Linked DNA regions of Homo sapiens. The protein of the gene in region 2 interacts with the protein of the main gene of each other region in a biochemical or structural test. Each region holds a gene or a part of one and is shown on either strand. Other genes may lie near its edges.

The links.
Region 1: the proteins of GPC4 (region 2) and FGF2 form a complex in vitro, tested with the Homo sapiens proteins (one study listed by BioGRID).

The regions. Positions count from the first base shown.
Region 1 is NC_000004.12:122,865,875-122,882,620, reverse strand, and holds part of FGF2 (fibroblast growth factor 2 isoform 18 kDa), read right to left. Parts: intron 6,301-16,746; coding exon 6,197-6,300; intron 747-6,196; exon of another isoform or gene 1-746. UniProt on the Homo sapiens protein: Acts as a ligand for FGFR1, FGFR2, FGFR3 and FGFR4. Also acts as an integrin ligand which is required for FGF2 signaling. Binds to integrin ITGAV:ITGB3.
Region 2 is NC_000023.11:133,401,917-133,418,662, reverse strand, and holds the start of GPC4 (glypican-4 precursor), read left to right. Parts: upstream 1-3,173; 5' UTR 3,174-3,697; coding exon 3,698-3,857; intron 3,858-16,746. UniProt on the Homo sapiens protein: Cell surface proteoglycan that bears heparan sulfate. May be involved in the development of kidney tubules and of the central nervous system.

The DNA.
Region 1 (16,746 bases), on a different chromosome or scaffold from region 2:
TAAATTAATTCTTACTGCACCAACTTGGTGGAAATCTGTTCCATCAGAAAGAGTTAATACATCCAAAGAGATAGAAACACATTTAAGACTAACTTTCACAAGTTCCTGCTTAGCTAAGAATGAAACTAGAAAACTTTATTTTGAGTATTTTACATTTCTGATGGTACAGAATCAACAGTTTGGGAAGCTTAATACCTATTTGCCAAGAGAAAAAGTCAGAATTCTCTTTTCAGGTCTACATTCTTTTAACTTGTCTCATCTTTTTATGTACCCTAGTAGTTTCAGAGATACACTTGAAGATAGAGCAATTTCTGTTTTCATCACTTTTAACAACAATGGGTCTTTTTATCATTGTCAATGAATCAATATTCAGCCAGTGCTCCTGAGGAGATGAAAAATTCCACCGGCAATTATCTTACAGAGTCACCATGATTACTAGGTTATATGGTTTGGCTGTGCCCCCACCCAAATCTCATCTTGAATTCCCATGTGTTGCGGGAGGGACCCAGTGGGAGGTAACTGAATCATGGAGACAAGTCTTTCTTGTGCTGTTCTTATGATAGTGAATAAGTCTCATGAGATCTTATGGTTTTATAAAGAAGAGTCCCCCTGCACAAGCTCTCTCTCTCTTTGCCTGCTGCCATCTATTTAAGATGTGACTTGCTCTTCCTTGCCTTCCGCCGTGATTGTGAGGCTTCCCCAGCCATGTGGAACTGTAAGTCCAATTAAACCTCTTCTTTTGTAAATTGCCTAGTCTTGGGTATGTCTTTTATCAGCAGCATGAAAATGGACTAATACAGTAAATTGGTACTAGGAATGGGGTGCTGCTGAAAGATACCCAAAAACGTGGAAGTGACTTTGGAACTGGTTAACAGGCAAAGGTTGGAATAGGTTGGAGAGCTCAGAAGATGACAGGAAAATGTGGGAAAGTTTGGAACTCCTTAGAGATTTGTTGAATGCCTCTGACCAAAATGCTGATAATGATATGGACAATGAAATCCAGGCTGAGGAGGTCTCAAATGGAGATGAGGAACTTGTTGGGAACTGAGCAAAGGTGAGTCTTGTTATGTTTTAGCAAAGAGACTGGTGGCATTTTGCCCCTGCCCTAGAGATTTGTGGAACTTTGAACTTGAGAGATATGATTTAGGGTATCTGGCGGAAGAAATGTTTAAGCAGCAAAGCATTCAAAATGTGATTTGGGTGCTGTTAAAGGCATTCAGTTTTATAAGGGAAGGAGAGCATAAAAGTTTGGAAAATTTGCAGCCTGACCATGGAATAGAAAAGAAAATCCCATTTTCTGAGGAAAAATTCAAGTGGGCTGCAGAAATTTGTGTAAGTAATGGGGAGCCAGATGTTAATCACCAAGACAATGAGGAAAATGTCTCTGGGGAATGTCAGAGACCTTTGCAGCAGTCCTTCCCATCACAGGCCCAGAGGTTTACAAGGAAAAAATGGTTTCATGAGCTGGGCTCAGGGTCCCTCTGCTATGTACAGTCTAGGGACTTGGTGCCTTGCTTCCCAGCTGCTCCAGCTGTGACTAAAAGGGGCCAAGGTACAGCTCAGGCTGTTGCTTCAGAGGGTGCAAGCATCAAGCCTTGGCAGCTTCCACATGGTGTTGAGCCTGAGGGTGCACAGAAGTCAAGAATTGAGGTTTAGGAACCTCCGCTAGATTTCAGATGTATGGAAATGCCTGGATGCCCAGGCAGAAGTTTGCGCAGGGTTGGGGCCCTCATGGAGAACCTCTGCTAGGGCAGTGCAGAAGGGAAATGTGGGGTCAGAGCCCCCACACAGAGTCCCTATTGCAGCACCACCTAGTGGAGCTGTGAGAAGAGGGCCACCATCCTCCAGACCCCAGAATGGTAGATCTACTGAGAGCTTGCACCATGCACCTAGAAAAGCCACAGACACTCAATGCCAGCCTGTGAAGGCAGCTGAGAGGGAGGCTGTACCCTGCAAAGCCACAGGGGCAGAGCTGCTCAATATGATGGGAACCCAGCTCTTGCATCAGCATGACCTGGATGAGAGACATGGAGTCAGAGGAGATCATTTTGGAGCTTTAAGATTTGACTGCTGGGCCAGGTGCAGTGGCTCACGCCTGTAATCCCAGCACTTTGGGAGGCCAAGGGGGGAAGATCACGAGGTTGGGAGATCAAGACCACCCTGGCTAACATGGTGAAACCCTGCCTCTACTAAAAAAATGCAAAAAATTAGCCGGGCATGGTGGCGGGTGCCTATAGTCTCAGCTGCTCGGGAGGCTGAGGCAGGAGAATGGCGTGAACCCGGGAGGTGGAGCTTGCAGTGAGCCGAGATCATGCCACTGCACTCCAGCCTGGGCAACAGAGCGAGACTCCATCTCAAAAAAAAAAAAAAAAAAAGATTTGACTGCCTCACTGGATTTCAGACTTGCATAGGGCCTGTAGCCCCTTCATTTGGGCCAATTTCTCCCATCTGCGATGGCTGTATTAGCCCAATGCCTGTACCCACATTGTATCTGGGAAGTAACTAACTTGCTTTTGATTTTACAGGCTCATAGGCAGAAGGGACTTGCCTTGTCTCAGATGAGATGTTGGACTGTGGACTTTTGAGTTAATGCTGAAATGAGTTACGACTTTGGGAGACTGTTGGGAAGGCATGATTGGTTTTGAAATGTGAGGACATGAGATTTTGGAGGGGCCAGGGGTGGAATGATATGGTTTGGCTGTGTCCCCACCTAAATTTCATCTTGAATTTCCATGTGTTATGGGAAGGACCCAGTGGGAGGTAATTGAATCATGGGGACAAGTCTTTCCCATGCTGTTCTTGTGATAGTAAGTCTCACAAGATCTGATGGTTTTATAAAGAGGCCTTCCCCTGCACAAGCTCTCTCTGCCTACTGCCATCCATTTAAGATGTGACTTGCTCTTCCTTGCCTTCCGCCATGATTGTGAGGCTTCCCCAGCCATGTGGAACTGTAAGTCCAATTAAACCTCTTTCTTTTGTAAATTGCCCAGTCTCTGGTATGTCTTTATCGGCAGCATGAAAATGGACTAATGCACTAGGTTACTGCATCTTCTAATCTCAACAACACCACAGGGTAACAACTAATCTCAAGGCATTCACTGACCCAGATTATGGCAGACATATAAAAGGCTGGAGCTTTAAAACCATTTTATTAGTGCTGTCCATAGTTAGTTATAACAGGAGCAAATGTTGTGTGCAACTCCTTTTTTTTCCTCTACCACCCTCACTGTCTGACAGTAGCCAAACCAATTCTACTGCAGAAGCATAGTGATTTGTCACATCCTAAAGTGAAAGGGGCAGGAGGGTTGGAAACTCATCTTCCTCTCACTAATAAAATGTCAGTCATCCAAAATTACTTATTGGTTCACTTTCATGGGAGATATTTAAAATGCTACTTTGGTAGATTCCCAAACTATTACATCACCTCTTGAGCTGACAATAGATTGGCAGAATAAAAGGCAAGTACAGAGTAGAAGAAGTGAAAGTCCCAAGTAGTTAATGTTTTGAGCTGTATTCTTTACCTAGGAAACTGCATACATTCCCCCAATTTAACTACCACCTATATGCTGATCATACCCAAATCTATCTAACAATCAATGTAGACTGTTCCTCTAAGCTCCAGATTTATAATTTCAACTACTCACTGAACATCTTTACCTGAATTTCCCTTAGGCAACTCAAACTAAATAGGTCTAAATTCGAACTTACTACCTTTTCCCAAACCTTGCTCTTTTCTTCCTTCCCCTTTCTCGTCTACCTTCTCACCCAAACCAGCAACCTAAAAGCCATCTTTGACTTTTCTTTCATCTTCAGTCCTAAATCTAATCAATCACAAGTGCTAGCACTTTCCTCACTCCTCTCTGACCTACTGTTATTGCCAGGATCAGAACATGACTTGCTTGGACTATTACAGTGGCCTTCTAACTGATCTCTCTCCACCAGTCTTGGCCCCCTCAAGTCCATTCTCTACACTTCTGCCAGGATGATCTTTCTCAAATTTAAATCTAATTAGATCTCTTCTTAAAACTCTTCATGGCTCTCCACTGCTTATAGTCAGCATGGTGTATAAAGCCCTTCAACAGATTCAGCAGACAGTCTATCTACCTCCCCAGCCTTCTCTCCCTTCCCTTCCACCTAGTTACTCCATTGCACTATACATTCCAGCATTAGTTAATTACTTGTAATTCTAGAGATACATCAAGTAGATTTTTTATCCACACCTTTTCATGTCCTATGTCCTAGAGTTATCTATACCTTCATCTCAATTTCTTCTGCCCCATGACTGCCTGCTGAACTCCTTCCTTTACAACGTCTAAAATTCTACTTATAGGTCATCTCCCCCAATTCTAGAAAAATGTAATTACCTCATTTTCTATATTGCTTCCTATATCATAATACTTCTTATCCTTTCCTATATTACTATGCATGTATGCAAAATATAGAAGTAGCATATCAAAACCCTTATACATTATTATAAATACTTATTTACACTTCTGCCTCCCCTGGATTGTCACTCATTAAGGGCAGAGACAATTTGATATTCAATTTTATAAGCTCAATGCCTACCATAGCATCTGGCACACTTTCACTTAATAAGTATTGGCTATTCTTAAAGAGAATTCTAAAATTTATTCAACTACCTCCCCCCAAAATTGAGAGCCACTACACTCAAACTTGTGATTTATCCTGCAAAAATTACATAAACTGGTAATATCAATGTAAGTATATCTTTGTCATACAGTCAGTCTGAAATTGGGATAGTTTAGATACCCTTTTTCTCTGTAAGCCTTGTTTTGGTGCTTTTAGAAATCCAAAGGTCTTCATTCAGAAGAAATTTCAAAAACTATTTGTATAGCTCAAAATACCACAATTTCTTAGTACTGTTAGATCCTTTCTGTGGGGAGGTTATATAGAGATGTCATAACTGGCCAGTGGCATTGGTGTAAGAGCTGTGAAACACACACACGCACAAACATTTACATACATGTCCTATCTACTCCCTCACGGAGACAGGAATGAGATCTGTCTTTTATATTTATTTTCCTGCACCATTCTTTATACATCATATGTTCAACAGATATGCAGTCCCGTTTCTAATAATAATGGTGAAGTTGACAGGGAGCCTGTACTAGTGGAAAGAATACTAGCCAGGAACTAGGACCCCTGATAAGCTGTGATAACATGTAAAAAAGAAAAGTTCCTCTCTACAGCCAGGCACGGTGGCTCACGCCTATAATCCCAGCACTTTGGGAGGCCAAGGCAGGCGGATCACCTGAGGTCAGAAGTTCAGGACCAGCCCAGCCAACATGGCGAAACCCTGTCTCTACTAAAAAATACAAAAAAATTAACCAGGCATGGTGGTGCATTCCTGTAATCCCAGCTACTCGGGAGGCTGAGGCAGGAGAATTGCTTGAACCCAGAAGGCAGAGGGTACAGTGACCCGAGATTACGCCACTGCACTCCAGTCTGCGCAGTGGAGTGAGACTCCATCTCAAAAAAAAAAAGAAAAAAAAAAGTCCCTCTCCTGACATATATGTAAATGAGAAGTAATGTGAGGAAGAAGTAACAATTTTCAGGATCTATTACGTGTCAGATGCTGATTTGGGCACTTGATGTGTAGTATCTAATTAAATTCTGATAAAATCCCAATGAGATAGTATCATTGTTTCTATTTTACAGGTAAGAGAACTAACTCAGAATCATTTGCCCAAGAACACAGAGCTCATAAGTGGCAGAGTCGGCATCTGTACCAGGCAGAAAGCTTACATTCTCAACTAGTGTTCTACATTGCTAGTGTTTTGTACGTCACATTCTAAAGAAGAAACTTAAAAACTAATAATCAAAATTGTATACATTTATTCCCAATGATCTTCAAACAACTGCATAATAGAAGAAAATTTTTTTTAAATTATAGCTTAATAGTTTTGCAGAGTAAAAGCAGTGACTTAGAGGTCAGGAATGCCTCCAGCCCAATCCAGTCTCTACTTTATATGAGCTGTGTTTTCTTACTTTACTTACTCCCTCAGCACATCAGTTTTTGCATCTGTGAAATAAAGAAAATACTCCCTATTTTACAGGGTGACTATGACGATGATACACGTAAAATCCTTTATAAAGATTTGATAAACAACAATGCTGGTAAATTAACAGCAATAAAAGCTAACAAAAAACGTGTGAAAACAGAAAGTATGCTTACAGAAGCCAGTAATCTTCCATCTTCCTTCATAGCCAGGTAACGGTTAGCACACACTCCTTTGATAGACACAACTCCTCTCTCTTCTGCTTGAAGTTGTAGCTTGACTGTAACGGGAAAAAAAATTATCTTTGTAGCACCACAGAGGAAAGAGCCTTCTTCACAATATTTACGCAATATAAAGACAAAACACACCTAAGCAACAACTAATCCACTTTGGAGGATTGGTGAGGTTGGGGGTATGGGTGAGTGACAGGGAGCAGATGTCAACTAAACTGTATGAGAGAGGATGAGATGCAGAACTACTAGGGCACCAGTGCCTTGTGAGTTCCTTGTCGCTCCTGTGTCACAGGGTGAGCAGAGAAGGTGTCACAGGGTGAGCAGAGAAGGGGGACACACGGAGAATTGTTTCCTTTGTTGGGCAGTTAGCTTTCAATCGCCCCTGTTAACTATTTACATTTTTTAAAGTGAACATATTTTAAGGGTACATAAAAGTGTAGGAGAATTCCCATGCTACTGCCTATGTTGAAACTATTTAAAAGTTATTTGCCAATTCTTCACAAATGAAACAAAATCTAGTTATTCACTGTTATAATTTGAGCTGTATTTCCTTGACTTTTTGAGACGGAGTCTCTCTCTGTCACCCAGGCTGGAGTGCAGTGGCACAATCACGGCTCACTGCAACCTCTGCCTCCCAGGTTCACACCATTCTCCTGCCTCAGTCTCCCAAGTAGCTGGGACTACAGATGCCCACCACCACGCCCAGCTAATTTTTTGTATTTTTAGTAGAGACGCGGTTTCACCATGTTAGCCAGATGGTCTCGATCTCCTGACCTCGTGACCCACCTGCCTTGGCCTCCCAAAGTGCTGGGATTACAGGCATGAGCCACCGCGCCCGGCCCTATTTCTTTGACTTCTACACATCTTATTTCTAGCTTCCTCTTCAATGAACTATAGATGCATTTAGCTTTCTATATGGGATTTTGATGTCTATTTTTTTGTGTGCAAATATCTATCTAGTGGAAACACAAAATGCTTATACTTAATTTGCTTACACAGCAAATGATTTTCATAAAATAAGTGTGATGAAAGATTTTCATAAAATAAGATCCTGAGAAAGATGACTTGTCACACCACATTATCAATATTAAGCAGATTACAGAAAAACAAAAAAAAATTACTTAATTATGATGATAATGTAATATGGACAAATAATTACCTAATTAATTGAAATAAAAATGAAGTAAAGATTATTTTGCTATTCAGAGGCAGCATTCTCCTGCCTAGAACAATATTCCCCCAAATATATTTTTGCTAACAGATGTTAAATAAAAAATAGGTTCTGGTGTCAAATAATTTAGGAAAATCTTAGTTAAACCAAGTTAACTCTTTATTACCAAACTTCTCAGAACTCTGCTTATCATAAGATAAACAAGATAAATGTTTGTCCAGACTATTTTCATAGGTCATCCCACATCCTATGGATATGTTTAGGATATTCTTGAGAGCAACAGAAAAAAATGCAATTTTAGAAATCAGCATATTATCATTTGAATAACATTAGAAATATAAAATAAATATAATTTCCAGGTGTTTATAGGTAGCTAGGGAAACGGCATGAAAAAGCAACTTTTGAAAGTTTCTTAAATAATTAACTTTGTTAGATATCATTATGTCATAGTAATTTATGTTTTAAAATTTTTCCTACCAAGACAGCAACAGACATGCAAAATGAAACATAATATCTGGGATTAGCTTTAAAATAAGCTAATATATTATTTTAAATAATAGATAACTAAATTTTTAATAAAGTGGATAGGATAAATAAGATTCACTTGTGTTAACAGTCATTAGAAGCACAGGATTTCATTATTCTAATCTCACTACTTTTATGAATGTTTAAGAATTTACAATTTAAAAAAAAGACAATCTTAGAATTTTGTTGAACATTTCATGTCTGAGTCACCTCTGTGTGTCAGTCACCCCTGGATTCCAGAAAGCATTGCATCATTTAAGCCTACAGTTACCCAAGTGAAATTCTTCTACAAAATCTTAAAAGATAATACGAAGTAAAAGGAATGTAATGAAGACATGAAACCCAAACAATGAAGGGTATGAAGTATTTTTTACAATATTATTGGAAAATGCAGAAAATAAGCTTTGTTTTTAATCAACATAACCAAACTTATCTTAATGAGTATAAGCAAATTATTGCATACAGCTCTAAAATGATTCAGATAAGCCATTTTAATGAAGAATGCATTTGCATCTCACTTTAACTCATAAGGATGTACAAATGCCCATGAGGCAAGGCTGAATAATCAATCGCTATACTTTCTTTCTGTCCCTTATCAATCAACGCTAGCCCAGCTCTGGTCCACCATCTTATAAATGTGTATTACTAGTCATGAGGGTGATTAGGGATATTCGTGTATGGCCAGATCAGTACCAGTGACTCAATACCCAAAGTAAACATAATTCATTTACTCATTAACCTTTTGTAGACCTCAACTATTCCCACACTCAGGGATTGTTGTCATTCATTAAACCACTAAGCAATAAGCATTACATGTAAGATTCTTGAAGAGTGTTTCCATTGGCATATAATTTTTAAATTACAAGTTTTAAAAATAACCAGAGTCTACAACAAGAAGTTGAGGAAGTCACAAAATCATAGATTTTCTATAAAAACTATCTGAGCTGAGATGCATAAAAAACCTAAATAAACTAAATTCAATATACAGATGATCTCTTCCCAAAATAGAGATGCATAGCTGCTTCATCTCCTAAATAAATTCGATATACAGATGACCTCTTCCCAAAAAAGAGATGCATAGCTGCTTCATCTCTGATAGAAGGAGGAATAAACTTGCCAAAAATGGGACCACGAAGAAACCAGCTGAATTTTTAAGAAACTTTTATTAGCTGCTGATGTGAGGAATTAGAATTCTGAAGAGCCCTGATCAAAGAGCAACTCCATATCCACCTGCCAGTTCTTTCCCATAGAGCTTCCACCCAGTGCACAAGTACCACACACCAAAGGCTAGGAACAGAACAGAAGGGCTAAGAGATCCTCTTCAAGTACACTGGGCCTTTGCAGAATGCAAGGCAGCAGTCCACTGAAGGCTGGGAGCAGGTCAAAGGGCTGAAAGTGATCCTTCTGAGAAGCACTGAGCCTTCACCAAATGCAAAGCCAATGACCAGCAGGATAAAGAGAGATCTTCCAAGATGTGGAAAGCCAGGAGTACAGTTCAAGAGCAAGGTTAGCTCCCCACCAACCCAAACATTTGGCAGCTGAGTTATAAGGGCAAAATGAAATATTTTAAAACTACTCAATTAACCCAAGAAGGCAGAAAGGGAAAGACAGAAGGTAAAGGACAGATAGGATAATTAGAAAAATAGCAAAATGTGTGAATTTGATTCTGTCGTCATGCTGCTATTTGGTTATTTTGCACACTAGCTGATGCAGTTTCTTCATAGTGTCATTGGTCTTTATATTTTGGTGTGTTTTTTGCAGTGACTGGTACCGGTTTTTCCTTTCCATATTGAGTGCTCCTTTCAGGAGCTCCGGTAAGGCAGGCCTGGTGGTGACAAAATCCCTCAGCATCTGCTTGTCTGGAAAGGATTTTATTTCTCCTTCGCTTTTGAAGGTTAGTGTGGCTGGATATGAAATTCTGGGTTGAAAATTTTTTTCTGTAACAATGTTGAATATTGGCCCCCAATCTCTTCTGGCTTATAGAGTTTCTGCTGAGAGGTCTGCTGTTAGTCCGATGGGCTTCCCTTTGTAGGTGACCTGGCCTTTCTCTCTGGCTGCCCTTAACAGTTTTTCCTTCATTTCAACCTTGGAGAATCTGACGATTATGTGTCTTGGGGTTGATCTTCTTGTGGAGTATCTTGGTGGTGTTCTCTGTATTTCCTGAATTTGCATGTTGGCCTGTCTTGCTAAGTTGGGGAAGTTCTCCTGGATAATATCCTGAAGTGTGTTTTCCAGCTTGTTTCTGTTCTCCCTGTCTTCTTCTGGTACTCCAATCGATAGTAGGTTCGGTCTTTTTATGAAGTCCCATATTTCTTGGAGGCTTTCTTCATTCCTTCACATTCTTTCTTCTCTAGTCTTGTCTGCATGCCTTATTTCAGCAAGGTGGTCTTCAAATTCTGATATCCTTTCTTCTACTTGGTTGATTTGGGTGTTGATACTTGTGTATGCTTCACGAAGTTCTCATGCTGTGTTTTTCAGCTCCATCAGGTCATTTATGTTCCTCTCTAAACTGGTTATTCTAGTTAGCAATTCCTCTAACCTTTCATAAAGGTTCTTAGCGTCTTTGCATTGGTTTAGAACATGCTCCTTTTAGCTCAGCGTAGTTTTTTATTACCCATCTTCTGAAGCCTGCTTCCGTCAATTCGTCCATCTGATCCTCCATACAGTTCTGCACCCTTGATGGAGAGACATTGCGATCATTTGGAGGAGAAGAGGCACTTTGGCCTTTTGGGTTTTCATCATTTTTTCGTTGATTTCTTTCTCATCTTTGTGAGTTTGTCTATTTTCAGTCTTTGAGGCTGCTGACCCTTGAATGGGGTTTTTGTGGGGGATTTTTTGTTGTTGTTGATGCTGTTGTTGTTGCTTTCTGCTAGTTTTTTTTTTTTTTTTTGTCTTTCAATGGTCAGGTCCCTCTTCTGAGGGCTTCTGCAGTTTGCTGGGGGTTCACTTTAGGCCCTATTCTATCTGATTTGCTCCTGCACCTGGAGATGTTACTCAAGGAGGCTAGAGAACAGCAAAGATGGGTGCCTGCTTCTTCTGTGTCCTCTGACCTCGAGGAGCACCAACCTGATGCCAGTAGGATCGCTCCTGCATAGGGTGTCTGACAACCCCCTGTTAGAGGGTCTCACCCAATTGGGTGGCACGGGTAATAGGACCAGTTTGATGAAGCACTTTCTCTCTTGGTGGAGGGGGTGTGCCTCTTAGAGACCTACAAAGAGACTTAGACTCCTATGAAATAATAGTGGGAGACTTTAACACCCCACTGTCAGTATTAGATCAATGAGACAGAAAATTAACAAGGATATTCAGGACTTGAACTCAGCTCTGGATCAAGTGGATCTAGTAGACATCTATAGAACTCTCTACCCCAAATCAATAGAATATACATTCTTCTCAGTACCACATGGCATTTATTCTAAAACCGACCACGTATTTGGAAGTAAAACACTCCTCAGCAAATGCAAAAGAACTGAAATCATAACAGTCTCTCAAAACACAGTGCAATCAAATTAGAACTCAGGATTAAGAAACTCACTCAAAACCACACAATTACATGGAAATTGAACAACCTGCTCCTGAATGACTCCTGGGTAAATAATGAAATTACGGCAGAAATGAAGAAGTTATTTGAAAACAACGAGAACAAAGAGACAATGTACCAGAATCTTTGAGACACAGCTAAAGCAGTATTAAGAGGGAAATTTTTAGCACTAAATGCCCACATCAGAAAGCTTGAAAGATCTCAAATCAACACCCTAACATCATAATTAAAAGAGCTAAAGAGGGAAGAACAAACTAATCCAAAAGCTAGCAGAAAACAAGAAATAACTAAGATCATAGAAGAACTGAAGGAGATAGAGACACGAAAAACCCTACAAAAAAATCAATGAATCTAGGAGCTGTTTTTTTGAAAAGATTAACAAATTAGACCACTAGGTAGACTAATAAAGAAGAAAAGAGGGAAGAATCAAGTAGACACAATACAAAATGATAAAGGGGAGATCACCACTGACCCCACAGAAATAGAAACTATCATCAGAGAATACAATAAACACTTCTACTCAAATAAACTAGAAAATCTGGAAGAAACTGATAAATTCCTGGACACATACACCGTCCCAAGGCTAAACCAGGAAGAAGAATCCCTAAATAGACCAATAACAAGCTCTGAAATTGAGGCAGTAATTAATAGCCTGCCAACCAAAAAAAGCCCAGGACCAGACAGATTCACAGCTGAATTCTACCAGAAATACAAAGAAGAGCTGATATCATTCCTTCTGAAACTATTCCAAACAATTGAAAAGGAGGGACTCCTCCCTAATTTATTTTATGAGGCCAGCATCATCCTGATACCAAACCAAGAAGAGACAGAACAAAGAAAACTTCAGGCCAACATCCCTGATGAACACTGATGTGAAAATCCTCAATAAAATGCCGGCAAACAGAATTCAGCAACACATGAAAAAACTTATCCGCTGCGATCAAGTCGACTTCATCCCTGGGATGCAAGGCTGTTTCAACATACACAAATCAATAAATGTAATCCATCACATAAACAGAACCAAAGACAAAAACCACGTGATTATCTCAATAGATGCAGAAAAGGCCTTTGATAAAATTCAACACCCTTTTATGCTAAAAACTCTCAATAAACTAGGTGTTGATGGAACATATCTCAAAATAATAAGAGCTATTTGTGACAAACCCACAGCCAATATATTGAATGGGCAAAAGCTGGAAGCATTCCCTTTGAAAACTGGCACAAGGCAAGGATGCCTCTCTCACCACTCCTACTCAACATAGTATTGGAAATTCTGGCCAGGGAAATCAGGCAAGAGAAAGAAACAAAGGGTATTGAAATAGGAAGAGAGGAAGTCAAATTGTCTCTGTTTGCAGATGACATGATTGTATATTTAGAAAACCCCATCATCTCTGCCCAAAAACTCCTTAAACTGACAAGCAACTTCAGCAAAGTCTCGGGATACAAAATCAATGTGGAAAAATCACAAGCATTCCTTTACACCAACAATAGACAAGCAGAGAGCCAAATCATGAATGAACTCCCGTTCACAATCGTTACAAAGAGAATAAAATACCTAGGAATACAGCTAACAAGGGATGTGAAGGACCTCTTCAAGGAGAACTACAAACCACTGCTCAAGGAAATAAGAGAGAATGCAAACAAATGGAAAAATATTCCATCCTCAAGGATAGGAAGAATCACTATCGTGAAAATGGACATACTGCCCAAAGTAATTTATAGATTCAATGCTATTCCCATCAAACTACCATTGACATTCTTTACAGAATTAGAAAAAACTATTTTAAATTTCATATGGAATGAAAGAAGACCCCGTATAGCCAAGACAATCCTAAGCAAAAAGAACAAAGCTAGAGACATCACACTACCTGACTTCAAACTATACTACAAGGCTGCAGTAACCAAAACAACATGGTACTGGTACCAAAACAGATATATAGACCAATGGAGCAGAGCAGAGACCTCAACAAAAGCAATTGCAACAAAAGCCAAAACTGACAAATGGGATCTAATTAAACTAAAGAGTTTCTGCACAGCAAAATAAACTATCAGCAGAGTGAATAGGCAATCTACAGAATAGGAGAAAATTTCTGCAATCTACCCATCTAACAAAGGTCTAATATCCAGAATTTATAAGGAACTTAAACAAATTTACAAGAAAAAAACAACCTCATCAAAAAGTGGGCAAAGGATATGAACAGACACTTCTCAAAAGACAACATTTACATGGCCAACAAACATAAGGAAAAAAGCTCAACATCACTGATCATCAGAGAAATGCAAATCAAAACCACAATGAGATACCATCTCACACCAGTCAGAATGGTGGTTATTAAAAAGTCAGGAAACAACAGATACTGGCAAGGCTGTGGAGAAATAGAAACACTTTAACACCGTTGGTGGGAATGTAAATTAGTTCAACCATTGTTGAAGACAGTGCGGCAATTCAAGGATCTAGAACCAGAAATACCATTTGACCCAGCAATCTCATTACTGGGTATATACCCAAAGGAATATACATCATTCTACTATAAAGACACATGCACATGTGTGTTTATTGCAGCACTATTCACAATAGCAAAGACATGGAACCAACCCAAATGCCCATCAATGATAGACTGGATCAAGAAAATGTGGTACACACACACCGTGGAATATTATGCAGCCATAAAAAGGAATGAGATCATGTCTTTTGCAGGGACATGGATGAAGCTAGAAGCCATCACCCTCAGCAAACTAACACAGGAAAAGAAAACCAAATACCGCATGTTCTCTCTCGTAAGTGGGAGTTGAACAATAAGAACACATGGACACAGAGTGGGGAACAACACACACCAGGGCCTGTTGTGGGGTGGGGAGTGAAAGGAGGGAACTTAGAGGATGGGTCAATGGGTGCAGCAAACCAGCATGGCACACGTATACCTATGTGCACGTTCTGCATATGTATCCCATTTTTTTAGAAGAAATTTTAAAAAAAGAAAAATAGCAAAATGTCAGATTTAAACTAACCATATCAATAATAACACTGAATATAAATGTCCAACACACCACTAAAAGGAAACAATTGTCAACAAGATGAAAAAACAAAACCTAACTATGTTGTTTACAAGAAAAGCACCTTAATTTACTAGGCAAGTTAATAGTAAAACTGTGGAAAAAATGGGTAAAATGCAGACCTTCAGTATAAGAAAGCTGATCTGGCTATATTAATATCTGACAATATAGCTTTGAAGGCAAGTAGTATAACCAGAAATAAACAGGGTCACCATAATCATCTTAAATGTTTAGCAGCTAATAATAGAACTCTAAAATATCTGAAGCAAAAACTGACAAGAGAATAAATCATTAAGAATATGGAAGGTGTGAACAGCATTACCAATCGTGATTTAAATGATACTGTTGTTTAAATCAGGTAAGTTTCATTTACCTAAGACTTCATCCTCCTAATATAGTCATTTGAAAACTATGTTCCAAAACATTAATTGTGGCTGAGCACAGTGGCTCACACCTGTAATTCCAGCACTCTGGGAGGCCTTGGCAGGCAGATCACTTGAGCCCAGGGTTTGAGACCAGCCTGGGCAACAAAGTGAAATCCTGTCTCTAAAAAATTAAAAAAATATATATTTTTAACAGAAAAAAATTAACTGCCAGCTTGGGAAGCCATCTATGGCAATTTGCCTACTGGTCTTGAATTGTTCAAATCAATTAACTCCATCTGAGAAATTCCTTTTCCAAAGACACCATAATACTAAGTAATATCGAAGGCACTTATTCTGAACTGTTGGTACCCATGGTTCCTTTGTTTGTTTTACCTGTTATAGCCTTATTGAGGTATAATTCACATGCCATGCAATTCACTCATTTAAAACATGCATACAGTTCAATGTGCTTTACTATAATCACAGCATTGGGCAACCATCACAATCAATTATAGAACATTTTCGTCACCCTACATTCTTTAGCAGTCATTTTACACGTCCCTAATACCACTCATCCCAACCCTGGGCAACCTGTCTGTATAGATTTGTCTATTCTGGACATTTCATATAAACAAAATGTGACTGCCTCTTTCACTCAGAATAATGTTTTCAAGGTTTATGCATGTTGTAGCATGTATCAGTACTTCATTACTTTTTATCACCAAATAATAGTCCATTGTATAGCTAGACTTTGATTCATTCATTCAGCAGCTGATGGATATTTGGACTGTTTTTACTTTTTGGCTACGTAAATAACGTTGCTATGAACATTCGTAGACAAGATTTTGTGTAGACATGTTTTCTTTTGGGGGGAGTATATACCTAGGAGTCAAATTACTGGGTCATATGGTAACTCTATGTTTAATCATTTGTGGAACTGTCAGACTGTTTTCCAATGCAACTTTACATTCTCATCACAATATATGAGAGTTCCAATTATTCCACATCCAGGCCAACACTTGTTATGGTCTGTTTTTGTTTCTCAATTATAGGCATCCTAGTTGAGTGTGAAGTAATATCTCACTGTGGTTTTGATTTGCATTTCTTCGATGGGTAATAATGTTGAGCATCTTTTCATGTGCTTATTGGCTATTTGGTTACCTTCTTTGAAGAACTGTCTACTTAGATCTTTGATTCATTTTTAGATTGTCTTTTTATTATTGAGTTGAAAGAGTTCATTATATGTTCTAGACACAAATCCCGTTCAGACATATGATGTGAGAATATTTTCTCCCATCCTGTGGGGTATCTTTTCACTTACTTTTATTTATTTTTTTTTTTTTTGAGACGGAGTCTCGCTCTTTCACCCAGGCGGGAGTGCAGTGGCGCAATCTCGGCTCACTGCAAGCTCCGCCTCCTGGGTTCACGCCATTCTCCTGCCTCAGCCTCCCGAGTAGTTGGGACTACAGGCGCCCGCCACCACGCCCGGCTAATTTTTTGTATTTTTAGTAGAGTCGGGGTTTCATGTGTTAGCCAGGATGGTCTCGATCTCCTGACCTCGTGATCCGCCCGCCTCGGCCTCCCAAAGTGCTGGGATTACAGGCATGAGCCACCGCGCCCGGCCTCTTTTCACTTTCTTGATGTTGTCCTTTGAAGCATAAACACTTTAAATTTTCATGAAGTCCAATTTATCAATGTTCTTCTTTTGTTGCTTGTACTTTTGGTGTCATATCTAAAAAATCACTGCCTAATCTAGGGTCATGAAGGTTTACACCTATGCATTCCTCCAAGTTTTAGTTTTACCCCTTCTATTTAGGTTTTAATACATTTTGAGTTA
Region 2 (16,746 bases):
CATTAGTGCATTCTATCTAAGCAAGCCTTTGCACACCGTTTATAAAACTGTAAACTCCTTTTGGCTTATACATCTTCCCTTCCTCTAGGACTGAACATTGTCAGGCACATAGGAGGTGTTCAATGAACATTTATCAATCTAAAACAAAGATACTTCCACAGGACCTTGGCAGTTGTACATTCACTGCTGACAGTAAAAGAGACCCAGAGCACTGTGTTCTCTGACCAACAACAACAACCACAACAAAAATAGCATGGGATTTGGTCAGAGGCCTTAGATTTCAGTCTTGGTTTAGCCACCCAAGAGCTCTGTGGCTGTGGAGAAGCCACAGAACCTTGCTGAGACTTGGTTTGCTTATCAATTAAAAACAAACAAACAAAAAACAAAATATTCTAAGATATGAGGGTGCACCTGGAAGCACTGTGCAAACTTGTAAAGTGCTATATGAACAAAATGTGGTATATCCGTAAATGGAACATTATTCAGTCATAAAAAGGAATGAAGTACTGATACATGTTACCATATGGATGGACCTTGAAAACATGATGCTAAGTGGAAGAAGTCAGACACAAAAGCCCTGTATTGTATGATTCCATTTCTACAAAATGTCTGGAACAGGCAAATCCATAGAGACAAAGCAAATTAGTGGTTTGTAGGGACTGGAAGGAGAAGAGAATGAACTTTGAGTGCTTAATGGGTATGTGGTCTCCTTTTGGAGTGATGAAAATGTTCTGTAACTAGTGGTGATGATTGTACATTATGATTGTACTAAATGCCACTGAAGTGTGCATTTCAAAATGGTTAAAATGATACCAAATTGCGTATGTGTGTGCTTTTTACCACAATTCTAAAAAGCAAAAAAAAAAAAAAGTTATATGACGGTTAATCAGCCTGAGAAGTCATCGATTTTTGCAGTCAACATGCAGTCTCTATTTTTTGGCGTTGAGAGAACTTACAAGGAGTAGGTGCATCTCCACTAAGAAGCCTCTTCTGAAGACAGCAGGGATGGGAGTGGGAGAGGGAAGAAGGAGTTCTGGCCCATCTGAAAAGAAAGCTTCCCTTCTGGATGGTATTTGTTTCGTAGATTGCCAGTTGTTCACCCTGTTTGTATTTAAATGAAAGGAGGCTTTGAAGTGGGAGCCGCCTCTGAGCACGGCTTGGGGTTCCTGCCTCCCTTGGTAAAGTTCAGACTTGTCCAGATCTGTTTGTAGCCAGAGGTTACTGTTTCTGGTGGAAAAGGCTCAAGTTTGGGTTAATAATACATTATGAGGAAGAGCAGGAGTAAACCTGGGGAGGGCGGGGGCGGCGGGGGGGAGCGGCGGCAACGAATGAGTTCCTCCCAGCCTTGGTGTGAGAAGTAGCTTTCTGATTTGGCCTTCATGGTTCAGGAGTATCATTTTCTCTCTTACGGTCACTGGCTTCCATTTTATAATAATGCTCGTTGCATCTCAGAGCATATTCTCCTTGGTGAAGAACATCTTTAAGTAAATGTATCAATCAATGAAAATTAAAAGTGCTCAGCTAAGCCCTAGCAATGCCTTCAGGACTTGATGGTTACCAGTTTAAGGAAAGTCTTGAAAATGGCAGGAAATTCAATTGTAGTTGAGTTTGCACATTAAAAAAATTGCTCTCCTAGTTTCAGAGTTAAATATTCAGCCAGCCCACAGAAATTGGAAGTCACAGTTATAGACGGGTCACAGTCTGTTCATGTTGATAGTCTGTTAACAAAATGTAGAAGAGTCTGCAAGCAGGTATTCAAAATAACAGCTCCTCATAGCCAGCCATGTCAACGTGGTTTACAAACAACAGTGGAGAAAGTCTCAACAAACCCTCTGAGGGTGATAACTGTAATGATGGTTCGTATCTTTGCCCTATGTAATTTTATGGGAATTGAGAGTCTAGCCAAATAATAAGTTCCAGCCCTTTTTATCTGCCCAGTTCCCAGCACACTCCCGAGGTGTCTGAGGCACTTCTCAACCCAACCTCTTAAAGCAGATTGTAACAATAACAACGGTAATGACAAGTTCCCGAGCTGCACAGTTCCCTTCATTTAAGGAGCGCTGGGAGCTTCAAAAAAACACTCATTAATGGAATCTGACAAAGCTTGCAAGATGGGAAGTCTCTCCCATTTCCAGTTTTCTGGTGGAAAAGTGGGGACTGAGTCCCAGAGGGGTGTCAGTCTCTCTCAAGGGGCTTGAGGGGGTAGGGGGTTTGGGAGTCCTGGGCTACCATTATTCCATGAAATTCGAGAGTCAAGAGTCCCGGGTTCTGGACGCCCCCTTCCCCGGCGTGCTATTTACCAAGTCGCTTCCCATTTCTGGGCCCCAGTTCCCTTAATAGAAGGAAGGGTTGGGCCAAATGGTCTCCAAGATCTCTGCGGTCAACCCTGTCTTTGCCCCCTCACCTCGCGGTTGGGGGTTTCTCCCGCTTCAGAGTTCGGTTAGACTTGTAGTAGAACCGGGTCGGGGGTGGGAGTGGCGTCGAGGGGTTGGAGTGTTGCGGATGCGGGAAGGAGGATGCCTGATGGGGTCCTGGACAAACTGGTGTTTCACGAGTACCGTCCTATGGGAAGCAGGTCTGGGGAGACCAGGTGAGGCTCTAGGACGAGCTCGGAGCCCCAAATCCCCCTGCTGCCTGCAGCGAAACAATGCGAGTAATGTGCCTTCCCCGCCCAGCCCGGGAGCTGCGCGGATAGGAGCGTCCGCGGGTGCGGGATGGCAGCGGGGAGGCGGATATCGCGGCGGGAGGGCTCCGCGCGGCTTTTGCCCATAGGCGGCGGGTCAGGTGGCCGCGCGCAAGAAGGCCTGGGGCTCAGACATGGGCTTCGGGACAAGTCCCAGGCCGTCCCGTTCCCCAGAACCTGGGCCCTTCAGCCCGGAGTAGTTGGCCTTCCCTTTGTGGTTGGGGGGCGGTGGGCTGGCTCCCCGCCTCCGAGGAGGAGGGGAGGAAGGAGGAGCCGGGTGGGGCGTGTCACGCGAAGGAGCGCCGGGCGCCCGGTGCGGCCCCCTAGGAAGTGGATTTGGCCGCTCCGGATCCAACCCGGCTTCCAGGTTTTCTCCCGGCCCGGCCCAGCGTGCTCCCGCCTGTCTCCGGCCCCCCCACGACGCCCGCCCCCTCCCCCCGAGTGCCGCCCGCTTGGCCAAGTTTGCGGAGCGTCGCCGCGCACGCCGGCCAGTCAATCAGCGGCAGAGCTGAGAAGGGCACAGCCGCGCGGCGGAGGGCAGAGTCAGCCGAGCCGAGTCCAGCCGGACGAGCGGACCAGCGCAGGGCAGCCCAAGCAGCGCGCAGCGAACGCCCGCCGCCGCCCACACCCTCTGCGGTCCCCGCGGCGCCTGCCACCCTTCCCTCCTTCCCCGCGTCCCCGCCTCGCCGGCCAGTCAGCTTGCCGGGTTCGCTGCCCCGCGAAACCCCGAGGTCACCAGCCCGCGCCTCTGCTTCCCTGGGCCGCGCGCCGCCTCCACGCCCTCCTTCTCCCCTGGCCCGGCGCCTGGCACCGGGGACCGTTGCCTGACGCGAGGCCCAGCTCTACTTTTCGCCCCGCGTCTCCTCCGCCTGCTCGCCTCTTCCACCAACTCCAACTCCTTCTCCCTCCAGCTCCACTCGCTAGTCCCCGACTCCGCCAGCCCTCGGCCCGCTGCCGTAGCGCCGCTTCCCGTCCGGTCCCAAAGGTGGGAACGCGTCCGCCCCGGCCCGCACCATGGCACGGTTCGGCTTGCCCGCGCTTCTCTGCACCCTGGCAGTGCTCAGCGCCGCGCTGCTGGCTGCCGAGCTCAAGTCGAAAAGTTGCTCGGAAGTGCGACGTCTTTACGTGTCCAAAGGCTTCAACAAGAACGATGCCCCCCTCCACGAGATCAACGGTAGGTGGGCACACCCGGGAGGTGGGCGCAGAGACCGACACTTCGGGAAGGGAGGCTGCAACTCCCTTCCCCCGCCCCGCCGCCCCCTGCGCCGGACGCAGGTACACTAGAGGGAGAAATGGGCAGTCGAGAGGGCAGGAGCGAGCGAGCGAGAGAGCCAGGCAGCCCGGGCGCAGGACGTTCCCCGCGGGCGCAGCGCTCCCCCCTTCCCAGCACTGCGAGCGGAGGGGCGCCGCCGGGTTGCCCAGTGCGACTGTCGCGCTCCGCTCCCCGCCTCCGCTCCTCCTCTCCCCCCTGCATTATTCGCCGTCCCGGGAAGCCCCTGAGGACTGTGGCCCTCAAAGTGCGTGTCACCGGCTACTTCTCCTTTTCCGGGTTGAACTCCTTATAGGACGCCCCGCTTTGTTGTATGGGTGAGGAGAGGCCGGGTGGGGGTGGGGGTCGCCAGTGGGGTGTGGTGGAGGGAAACGTCCCGGAGCTTGCTAGATTCTGGGGGTCGCAAAACGTGGAACTTGAATTGATGTTTCATTGATGTTCTTTTAAAACTCTCTCCCCGCCTCTCTTGCACCGCTGACAAGGATTAGGAGTTTTAGTAGCCGCAACCGCTTCAGAAGTCGCCTTTAAAAAGCAAACGACTACCCCCACTCTCCACCCCTCCAAACCCTGACTTTTGGGAACTCTCCTACTTTCCGGAAGGTATCAGACCAGAGGAGTATTTTTCCCCTCTTTCTTTTTTCTTACCTCATTTTAAGGGTTAATTGCACTTTCAATTACAGACCTTTGAAAGGACTGATTACAGGAAACCTGAATCTCAGTTTGGAGATGGTTATGCAAATAGAGACGGCTTAGCCTGTGAGAAAGTTCACCGGATTTTGGCGCCGGTGGGGTGGGATGGGGGGTGTATGGGGGTATTTGTGAAAGCCCCTCTCGGAGCGCTGGGGAGGCAGCGTTCGGCGGGTGCCCTGCGTCCCTCCCAGCGAAGCTGGCGGCGGTGTCCGGCCGGGTCCCCTCCGGGTCGCACTGTCTTCTTAGCAGCGGCCAACTGTTGCGCGCAGCCCCGCCGGCCGCGCAGGTAGCCCGTTCGCCCTGGGGGCTCAGAAAGCACCACGAATCTAGCTGGCTGGTGGCCAGCGTAATCTAACGGAGGAGTGAGAGATTCGAGCCCGGGGGGGGGGCTGAGCCTCCACTCCGAACCTTTCATGGAAGTGAGTGGAGCGCGCCTTTGCCTTGCCGTGCTGGTCTCCGGGTGGGGCGGGCAGGGGGCCGGCAGCCAGCAAAGGAAATACTGTAATTTCAACCAGGCGCTTCCAAAGGCTTAGGAAGATTTGGGGGTCATTTTTTGGAAGGGCTATTAATAACCTTGGAGATTAAGTGCAGTCATCAATTACATATTAATTACAAAGGTAATTGAGGGAAGTTGCTGGGCACTTTTGGAGTGTAACTGGCGTCTGTCTAGAAATAGAAGCGAAGAAATTGTTGGAGCAGCCCAGGCGCCCACTGCACCTTGGCAGTTACCAAATAACATGCTCACTACTGATTAGACACTGTTTGCCCTTCAGCTGCCTGTCTTTTGGGGAGCTCAAGTATGTCCTCAAAGCGGCACGATTTTATTGGTTGTAGAGCCCTGAAAAGCCCTCTTTCTTTCCCTTCCTCCTGCCCCGCCAGAAAAAAAATGAAGTGAACCACCAGCCGCTGAAGCTTGGGGACTCTGCAGGTCAAACCTGGGGTCTTTGTGCCCTGCACAGTTTAGGCCTGGGCACAGCGGAGATGATTGGCGTGAAGGTTACAGTTGTCATTCCCACATTTTGAAGGGGTAGATGCAGCTCTGCACTTAATGGGAATGTGACAAGGTTTCATCTTCTGCTCATGCAAACAATATGTGCCTTTGATATTGACTGCAGGCATTCAGCGAGTGGGGTTGTGAAACTGCCCTCCCCAGTTTCCCCAACTTTGCTCTGTGCAGTCTTTCGCTGTGGCAGGGCATCTTCCCCAGCCAGCATCTCAGGAAAAAGGAAGCTTGAAGGGTGCTCAGAGACTCTGTGCTAGGTGTTCCCTTTGATTGTCATCATCCCCAGAAATCACCTGAGGGATATTTTGCGTATATGTCTATCTGGACATTCCCCCATGCCAAAGATAGGGGAGTTATTAGTGACCAGCAGCAGGAAATGGAAGCTAATGTGCTCACACCCAAAACATTTTATTCTTTTTGTCTTGTCCTTCATCTCCCTCCCTGGGCTGCTGCTTTTATTTCCCCTTTTGAATGACCTACTGGACTGCATTCTCCTGAGGAACAAAGGAAGTGCCTTTTTAGCTGGAATCCTTGGAAGACCACCAAGGACTTTAGCTCATGCAGTGCAATTTCGCACCACTTTCAACAATAACAAAAATGCATGACTGAATGGCTCAAAAATGTGGAGTGTTAGAGGCATTCATTTGAGTCTAGGACACTGTCACAACACAGACAGACCCAAGTAAATACCTTTAGACGGCCAGTATAGAAACAGGCGTAATCTTTACCATCACCCTGGCCTCTCCAGATGCATACATTAGCCTTGTCTTCTCTGAGCTACACTCAGATAATTTTGGTCATTTTTTAAGGGGGATAGTCAATATAGTGACTTGTATTCAGCCTAGGTCTGGATGGATTAATTGCCAGGCACTTTGCCTGGGATGGGGAATGTGCTTTTTTCAGTGCAAAACACCCAGGATCATTTTCCAGGTGAAGTATCACAAAGTCTGGGTACCTAGCTCATTGAGCCCCAGGCTCAGCCCAAGTTTAATGTTTTATTCCAGATGGCCTTGCACTTGCCTTCTAGAGGTTTGAACAGGCTTTAAGAATACTCCATGTTCTGGAGGAGTCTCAGTCTTTATAGATCATAGTTAGGATCATCTGATGTGCTCTCAAGGGTGTCAGGGAGTACATCATGCTGACAGGGCTTCCAACTGAGGTCCTGCATTGCCTGTCTGCTTGACCCCTGTACTTTTCAAATAATGCTGAGTCCAGGTGCCATGATCAAAAGGGATCTTTAACACAAAGATTATGTTTTTGTTCAGCTTTCAATGGCCATGTACTTTTGGAGCGCCCACTATGTGCAGTATCCTCTGCTCAGCATTGTGGAGACAGCAAGAAAGGCAGGAGGGGCTTCTGCCACCAGGACCTTTCCTATTAGTAAGGAGATAAGCCACGCACACACAAAATTAGAATACAACACAGTGGTGATAAGTGCCATACAAGCGATACAGATGACGAGAAGGGAGTGCCCAGGCATTTCAAAGAGAGAAGGGATTTAGGACTCTAATACTATAGAATATTAACTGGGTAAAGCTAGTTCACTAGTAAAAATGAAAATACTAATGAAGATAAGTTTAAAAATCTAACCATTTTCATTATGCCTCCCTCCATAAAGACAAAGGTAAAGGGTATGCAACAATGGGCATTTTATTACTCATCTATGTTGAAATTGTTTTTAAGAGTGAGGCAGTGGGTTAGAAGCATTCATGAACTTGCCAAAGGTCCTCTTCACAATGACATTGAATGATACTCAGAACTTTGTGCCCTAGTTGCAGTTTTGGAGTTTTTATTTCTTGTTCCCTTCTGTGTTCATGAGCAATGCACCTATGATCATGTGCTCACACACACATACATATGTACATGCACAAAGGATTCCAGGACTCCTATAAGCTGTTATGACTACGTGGAAAAAAAGTACGTGTGTATGTGTGTTGGAGAGGTAGCAATACTTTCTAATAGTGAGTTGATTATATATGACACACAGCATGTGTCTTTAAGATTTGTATTCCGCCTTCCCCACCGTAAGTAATGTGTTGGATTTTGCAATGAATCTGTGATCTCCTGTTTTGTTGGAATCATCAATTTGGCTCTGTGTTTCACTTGGGGAGGGTCGAATTGAGCCACAGGGCCTATCACTGTAGAAATTGTCCCAAGTAGTTTACAGGAGGTATCTTCTGGACATGTTCAAAAAAGAATTTAGTTAAAGTTCTGGCTTATGCAGCTCAGTCTCTGGTTAGAACATATAAATATAAAATGTCTGATTCAGCATAATTACTGTTTTCCTTTTTTATTTGATTCACGTTGGGTTGCATGCAATTTCAGGATTAACTGGAGACTAGACTGAGGAATGAAAAAGGAAGTTTTTTGTTATGTGTACAAGGGAAACAACATTGGCGTTAATCTGAGGCAGTTGGAAGTGAGTCTCTCTGGCTCCCCAATGACATTAACTGTTTTAGCACTGAGGTTTTTTTCTTATTTATGTTTTTAAAAATGTATTTTGGCCTCATGATAAGAGTTCGTAGCTATTGAATGCTTTCTCTGGGCCTGGCCCTATACCAAGGAACTTACATGATTGTCTCATTTAAAACCCACAACAACCATATGACATCAGAATTATCATCTCCATTTTATAGACAAGAAAACAAATTCAAAGGGATTATGAAATATGTTCACAATCTTATAGCTAATGAATAACAGAGGTGGGATTTGAACCCAGGTCTTATCTGTTCTAGAGTATAGTTCATGCTATGTTGTACAGATAGTAAGACAAGAAAGTACCTTCTCTATTCCCATAGAGGTTGTTGAGATATAAAGTATGGGAGGACCCTCAGCTAACTAGTAACAGACCATCATCAAAACGGCACAATTTTCGTGTTATAGTGGAGAGGATCCAGTCACATCTTTTGTAGACAAAATGTCAAACCCAGACATAGACAATCTAGTGTTAATGGTAGAAGGAATATAAATTGTATTTCCTGGACAATACAATTGAGCCAATGAGGGTTTCTGAGGGAGGGGAATGTCGTCAGTCAAGCTGTTTTAGGAAGATAACTAGTGGCTCTTTGGGTTAAGGGTTGGCGAGGCAAGAGATAAAGACAGGGAGGTCTGTCAGCAGACTCTTTTTAAATAGTTCTTAACTGGTCTACCTGCCTCTTGTCTGTCCCCCCCTCCTAAATCCCTGTTCTATCCTGAACATCGCCAGCTTAATTTCCTTACATCACTGCTTTGATTAGAGTTATTCCTGTGCTTTGAGCTTCAGTGGCTCCAAGCATCTCAAATGATACTTCTTTCATTGAGTCACTTCTGAACTCTCCAGGGTTATGTGCCCACTTCTTCCTAATTCCCTGTTGGAACCAGTCCATGGTCTTTGTACATAACTGCCTTGTATTATAGTTAACTGTGTGTGCAGGTACGTGTTTGTCTTCTCAACTGGAAGCAACTTGAGGGCAAAGATGACAACTCCTCGTCTTGTCTGTGGGTAGCAGTACCAAGTGTGGTAGGTCAGTGCAATATTTGTTAAACAAGTGGGAGAATAACATAGCCAATTCTATTGTGTTCTCTGTCAGACACTAGTGCTACAATGAGATTATACTGCCTTGATGATAGATTGTCATTCCATGGTCTGTTGATCTCCTAGGAATCTTTTGGATCTAAACACTTTTTTTTTTTTTTTTTTTTTTTTTTTTTTTTTTTAAGGCAGGGTCTCACTGTTGCCCAGACTGGAGTGCAGTGGCGTGATCTTGCCTCATCGCAACCTCTGCCTCCCAGGCTCAAGCAATTCTCCTGCCTCAGCCTCCAGAGTAGCTGGGATTATAGGCATGAGCCACTACCGCCTGGCTAATTTTTTTTTTTTTTTTCCAAGATGAAGTTTCGCTCTGTTGCCCAGGCTGGATTGCAGTCGCGTGATCTCGGCTCACTGCAATCTCCACCTCCTGGGTTCAAAGGATTCTCTTGCCTCAGCCTCCCGAGTAGCTGGGATTATAGGCGTGTGCCACCATACCCGGCTAATTTTTGTATTTTTAGTAGAGACGTGGTTTCACCATGTTGGCCAGGCTGGTCTAGAACTCCTGACCTCAAATGATCCAGCCTCCCAAAGTGCTGGAATTACAGGCATGAACCACCATTCCAGGCCTGTATCTAAACACTTTGAAGTGAAATAAATTTAAAGTAAATATGCATATGTTGGTATAGCTTGGAGAACGTTTTTATTCTTTTGGGGGAGTACTTGTCTTTACCACTTCATTAATAACTGAATGCTTATAGGATTTTTTTTTATTTTTTGAAACAGAGTTTCGCTCTTGTTGCCCAGGCTGGAGTGCAATGGCACGATCTCAGCTCTCCGCAACCTCCGCCTCTGGTTCAAGCCATTCTCCTGCCTCAGCCTCCAGAGTAGCTGGGATTACAGGCATGCACCACCATGCCCGGCTAATTTTGTATTTTTAGTAGAGATGGAGTTTTTCCATGTTAGTCAGGCTGGTCTTGAACTCCTGACCTCAGGTGATCCACCTCGGCCTCCCAAAGTGCTGGGATTACAGGCATGAGCTACTGCACTGGCCAGGAATTTTTCAGAAAGATTCAGAATTGTTTTTCTTAATGCCTTGAGATACACTTCTTTAAAGAATGAACAGTTGAGACTGTTGTGATTAGGCAATTTAGAGCAAATTTACCACATGCAACTGTTCAGTGTGCATCAGTTACCTTTTAACATAAAAAAACTCAAGTTTATTGTCTTTACCAAGAAGAACACAAGCTTTGAAGGGTATCAGAATATTTTATATAAATAAACAGACATACTAAAATACAAACAGGTAAAAACTAGCATTTTCAAATCTACTTGGTTAAACATCTGTTGCTTACTATAGAGAACATGAAAGTGCAGAAAATGCATGAAGCGATTCCATCCTGGAGGTAATTTGAAATATTATGTTTAAGTTCTGATGCATTTAATTCAGCAATCTGGTGGGAGAGAAAAATCAAAGAGCTGCATCAGCCAGGTATTCAACTTTTGAGAAAGAAACTCTAACAAATGTTAGAAATTAGGGGAAAAAACTGAATGGGAGAGTTAAAAAAGTCAATAACCTCCAGGAAGCCTGGAAACTATGTAAAAACATCTTATTGGAAGCCCAGATAAATGTGTGCCAGACATCAAAAAGACCAACTGCTCGGGGGAAGAAAAAAAGAACCCGGCATGACTAACTGGCAGAGTAAAAGAGGCTGCTTCAGGGAAAAAGGCATCTTTCACAAAATACAAAGAGTTTAAGCCAGAAGAGGGAAGTCCACTAGGTTTCACAAGGCCCAGGTACAAACTAGAAATTAAGTGGGCTGACAGAGAATTGAAGTTGAATCTTGCAAGGGATTTGAAAGATGGCATGTGTGATAATAATGGTGAAAAGGGTGGGTTGAGTCCAACCTATCTAGGGAGAAGCAATATGGCTTCTTTAAGGGTAAACCATGCCTGATTGATCTCTCGGGATTCTTTGTGTGGAAAAAAAAGCATGAGGATACAGGGAAGCAGACATACATCATTTAGGTTTTTAAAAATTATGCAATGGGATTCTAAGGCAAAGAATATTCAGAAAATATATTTACTTTGAGATAGGTGGGGATAGTTGGACAGAGAGGGAGAGTGAGGGAGGGAAGAGACTCCACTGTTGTAGATGGAGTAGTTTACATGGAGAAGACATGGCTTGTTAGGATGAGTAGTTCTAGCCTAACTCTGGCAAATTTGTTGTCAAATACCTTTGGTGAGGTTCTTCCCTCTTTGAAAAATGGGGTGAAATTGAACCACCTGGCACCTGAGGAGCTTTTAAAATATACTAATGCCTGGGTACCACCCCATACCAATGAAATAATACTTTTTTCAGGAAGGACTAGGCCATGATGGATGGATGGATGGATGGATGAATGTGTGTGTGTGTGTGTGTATTTTTTTTTTTTGAGATGGAGTCTTGCTCTTGTCACCCAGGCTGGCGTGCAATGGCGTGATCTCAACTTACTACAGCCTCCACTTCCTGGGTTCAAGCGATCCTTCTGCCTCAGCTTCCCGAGTAGCTGGGACTACAGGTGTGTGCTGCCACACCCGGCTGGTTTTTTGTATGTTTAGTAGAGATGGGGATTCACCATGTTGGCCAGGCTGGTCTTGAACTCCTGGCCTCAAGTGATCCACCCACCTTGGCCTCCCAAAGTATTGGTATTACAGGCGTGAGCCACTGTGCCTGGCCCATGGTAGTTTTTTTTAATTTTCTTTTTTTTTTTTTTTTTTTTTTGAGACGAAGTCTTGCTCTGTTGCCAAGGCTGGGTGCAATGGCATGATCTCCACTCACTGCAACCTCCGCCTCCTGGGTTCAAGTGATTCTCCTGCTTCAGCCTCCTGAGTAGCTGGAATTACAGGAGCACACCACCACTCCTGGCTAATTTTTTATATTTTTAGTAGAGACAGGGTTTCACCATGTTGGCCAGGCTGGTCTCGAACTCCTGACCTCGTGATCCGCCCGCCTCGGCCTCCCAAAGTGCTGGGATTACAGGCGTGAGCCAGCATGCCTGGCCTAGGTCCCTTCCATCTCTGAGATTCTATTATTCTAAATTTTCCAATGAGATTCATCACAAAATGTTGTTTGAGATAAAGCCTTTAGTTTAGAATCAGTGCATGGTTGTTTTAATTTTGGCTAACTTGGATTTAAGAGAAAGGTGTGTCAAACATGGAGGAAAATGTTTTCAATCAAGATATAAGTGTGAACCACAACTGAGTGCTGCTTTGCTGCAGGTAGAGACATAAGACAAGCACAATGAGAATACTTTGGAAAGAATTAGAACAGAATCCAGCCTTGCTGTCATTTATTGATTAAGTGTCAACATGCTAGGTGATATTTCTTCCCTTTTTCTTTATTGGTAAAATTAAAATAAATCTCTTTATCCCTTACTTTAATGTCCTCTTTGCCATGTGTTTATTCTCTTCAAGTATCTTATCAAGAAATAGAAGTACAGTAAATCCCTAGGCTTCTAGCTGGTGCAACCATCCAGAACACAGCTGGGAATGTGGAAGTAAGCAGAAAAGCCAAATGATGGAAACAGCTGTCATAAAGCCCATGCATTCTATGTGGAGAAAAGGCCTTCAGAAATTTATTATCAGCAATCATTGAATGGCTCCTGTATCCAGAGCAGTATGCTGGGTGCAGGGGATTCCAAGAGGTGTCAAGCAGGAATCAAGCTTTTGAGGAACTTGCATTCAAATTAGGTAGATAGGGTTTATACGTGAGAAGATAAAATGCTTTGGTTATCCAGTTTCCCAGTCTATGGCAGATTAGAAGTAGCAAATGGTATTGGTTGGGGGCCGATGGGAATCACAGGAAGGGATCGTGTTAGAGGCAGGTAAGACTTGACATCTGGAAGAAGTGAGAGAGGACAGTTGGAGGGTGACCAGAAGCTGAATGGGAGAGCCAGAACTTGCTGATCTTGGCAGTTTGAGATCTCCTAGAATGGGCGAATGCTCAAAGCCACCTTTGTAACCATAATCATCGAGGGCACTAGTATATTTCATTACAGTATTAAATAATGGTGTTTGGCTTATTCTGATTTAAAAGTTCAGAAAGTACATTTTAGAAAGAGTTCCATTACTGGGCACGGTGGCTCACGCCTGTAATCCCAGCACTTTGGGAGGCCAAGGTGGGCGGATCACCTGAGGTTGGGAGACCAGCCTGACCAACATGGAGAAACCCCGTCTCTACTAAAAATGCCAAAATTAGCCAGGCGTGGTGGCACATGCTTGTAATCCCAGCTACTCGGGAGGCTGAGGCAGGAGAATTAGTTGAACCCGGGAGGTGGAGGTTGCAGTGAGCCGAGATTGAGCCATTGCACTCTAGCTTGGGCAACAAGAGTGAAACTCTGTCTCAAAAAAAAAAAAAAAAAAAAAGAGTTCTATTGGAAATATTCAAAATATGAAAACTACCCTTAAGGGGGAAATTTAGTTAACTTACACATTTACCTATCTAGAGCACCCAGTTTCCCAACAGTGCTGGATCAACAAGGAGTCAATCTACGTGTCACTTTGTCTTTTTATTTTAAAAAATGTGTTAAAAATTGTATATTATTAATTCAGTGGCTTTTTCACCTCAGAGCTTGTGGTTTATGATTTTGTTCCTCTGCACCTTTTTTTTTTTTTTTTTGAGACAGGGTCTCACTCTTTTGTCCAGGCTGGAATGCAGTGGCATGATCTCTGCTCACTGCAACCTCTGCCACCCAGGTTCAAGAGATTATCCCTCAGCCTTCCAAGTAGCTGTGATTATAGGCATGCACCACCACGTCCAGCTAATTTGTATATTTTTAGTAGAGATGGGCTTTCACCATGTTGGCCAGGCTGGTCTCGAACTCCTGGCCTTAAGTGATTCTGCCTTGGCCTCCCAAAGTGCTGGGACAGGCGTGAGCCACCACGCCCGGCCCCTCTGCACCTTCTTTTTTTTTTTTTTTTTTTGAGGCAGAGTCTTGCTCTATTGCCCAGGCTGGAGTGCAATGGCGCATTCTCCACTCACTGCAACCTCCGCCTCCCGGGTTCAAGCGATTCTTCTGCCTTAGCTTCCTGAGCAGCTGAGATTACAGGTGTGCCCCACCACGCCTAGCTAATTTTTGTATTTTTTAGTAGAGACGGGGTTTCTCCATGTTGGTCATGCTGGTCTTGAACTCCTGACCTCATGATCCGCCCACCTTGGCCTCCCAAAGTGCTGGGGTTACAGGCGTGAGCCACCACACCTGGCCCCTCTGCACCTTCTTTTGAAAGCCCTCTAGAACATCTAGGTTCAACTTAGTTTCTGATACTGTACTACCTGCTGTGGTCAGTTTAGGGAACTGAGTTTTGACCTGAAGTCAACAACAGTTGGTTCCTCGTTAAGGGTGACACATTTGAATACTGGTTTCCCTTGTAAACATTTACCAAACTAGGTAAATGTATAATCATAAGAAACACTAGAAGTTAAGGATAGTGTCTGACTATGTAGCTATTTGAACCTTAAAAAAAAGCAAAGCTTGGCTGGGCATGGTGGCTCTCGCCTGTAATCCCATCACTTTGGGAGGTCGAGGCAGGCAGATCACTTGAGGCCAGGAGTTCAAGACCAGCCTGGCCAACATGGTGAAACCCCTTCTCGACTAAAAACACAAAAATTAGCTGGGGTGTGGTGGTATGCACCTGTAATCCCAGCTACTCGGGAGGCTGAGGCACAAGGATTGTTTGAACTTGGGAGGCAGAGATTGCAGCAAGCCAAGATCACACCACTACACCCCAGCTTGGGCGACAGAGTGAGACTCTGTCAAAAAAAAAAAAAGGCAGCTCTATGTGCCCTATCATGCCAGATCTGAGAAACCATGTATCCCCAGTTCCTAACATACTGCATGGCATGTGGTAGGTGCTCAGGAACGTTAAGCATGACTTTTTGTTTCTGTACTCATTCCAGGACGAGATATTTTTATTCATATCTGCTGTGCTCTTACTCTATTCTTCTAAAATTCATATGTTGAAATCCTAACCCTCAAGGTGATGGTATTAGGAGGTGGAGTCTCTGGGAGGTAAACCCTCATGAATGTGATTAGTGCCCTTATAAAAGAGGCCCCAGAGAAAACCGTTAACACTTGCGCCACATGAAATTACGGTGAGAAGATGGCCCTCTATGAGGAAGCATGCCCTTACCAGAACCCAATCTACCAGCATCTTGATCTTGGACTTCCTGGCCTCCAGAACTGCAAGCAATAAATTTCTGTTGTTTAGAAGCCACCCAATCTTTGGTATTTTGTTTTAGCAGCCCAAACAGGCTAAGATAACCCTTTTTAAATCTAATTATTTTAAGCTATCTCATTTATTTTTAACTTTTGCATACATTCAGTCCTAGATGCCTAAGTAAGGAAAGGAAAAGGAAAACATGTTTTTTTACCCCTTAACCTAGAGCGTGGTGCTCTTTCTTGGCTTGCTTGGAGGTGGGCGCTTAGTATTTCATGTGGTTTGTTTTAATCCCGGTAGACAAATGGTTGCTACTTCTTACGCTGTCTGTTCCAGACATTAGCAGGAACTTGGCTGTGCCTGCAGAGGTGCTTTTTCTTTCTTTCTTTTTTTTTTTTTTTTTTCCTTTTGAGACGTAGTTTCACTCTTGTTGCCCAGGCTGGAGTGCAATGGCATAATCTCAGCTCACTGCAACCTCTGCCTCCTGGGTTCAAGTGATTCTCCTGCCCCAGCCTCCTGTGCAGCTGGGACTACAGGCACCCGCCACCATGCTCGGCTAATTTTGGTATTTTTAGTAGAGACGGGTTTCACCGTGTTAGCCAGGCTGGTCTCGAACCCCTGACCTCAGGTGATCTGCCTGCCTCGGCCTCCCAAAGTGCTGGGATTACAGGCATGAGCCCCCACACCTGGCCTCAGAGGTGCTTTTAGAAGAGGCTACCTTTGCCCCTTTTTGTTGCATCAGCCTTTCTACTAGGTGCTCACTTCCGTCTTCTTCTCCTGGAGGTTTGGGTCAGGACTTGATCTCTGCATCATCGCAACCATTCTTTTCATGCTAGTCCTTTCTTTGCAAAGCCACTTTGTTAGTTTGGCTTTTGCAGGCCTCTTAAAGCCTGTCTTCTTTCTTCTGTTCACCTTCTGCCTACCAGAGCAGGCTGGAAGTGGTTTCTTTTGGACTGTAGACATTTCCTTAGTTCACCAAACCCTTGACGTCATCATCCCAGCAAGCATTAAGCCACCAGAATATTTTTTTTTCCTTCAGTTATTGTTTCTATTTCACCACACATTTGTCTCCATTGAGTTTTCGGTCTGGTGTTTGGTCAGAGATGAAAACAAAGCACTGTGTCCTTGCAAACTGCAGTGTAAAGCATGTGGTTAGCAGTTACTACTTGCAGTGGTCCAGTCTGAGTGGGAGTATCATTTTTCTTGGCAGTGACTTCACAGAAAGTCCTGTTTTTTGGTGCCAGAGTAAGCAGTCATTACATTCCTTACAATTTATAGTCAAATTATTATCTACTATTGTTTAAATTGCCTTAATTATAGAAGATTTCCCTGTGCTAAGATTTTAAAAAGCAAAATAAGACAACTTTTTACCAATGTACTTTAGAAATGGTCCTTAA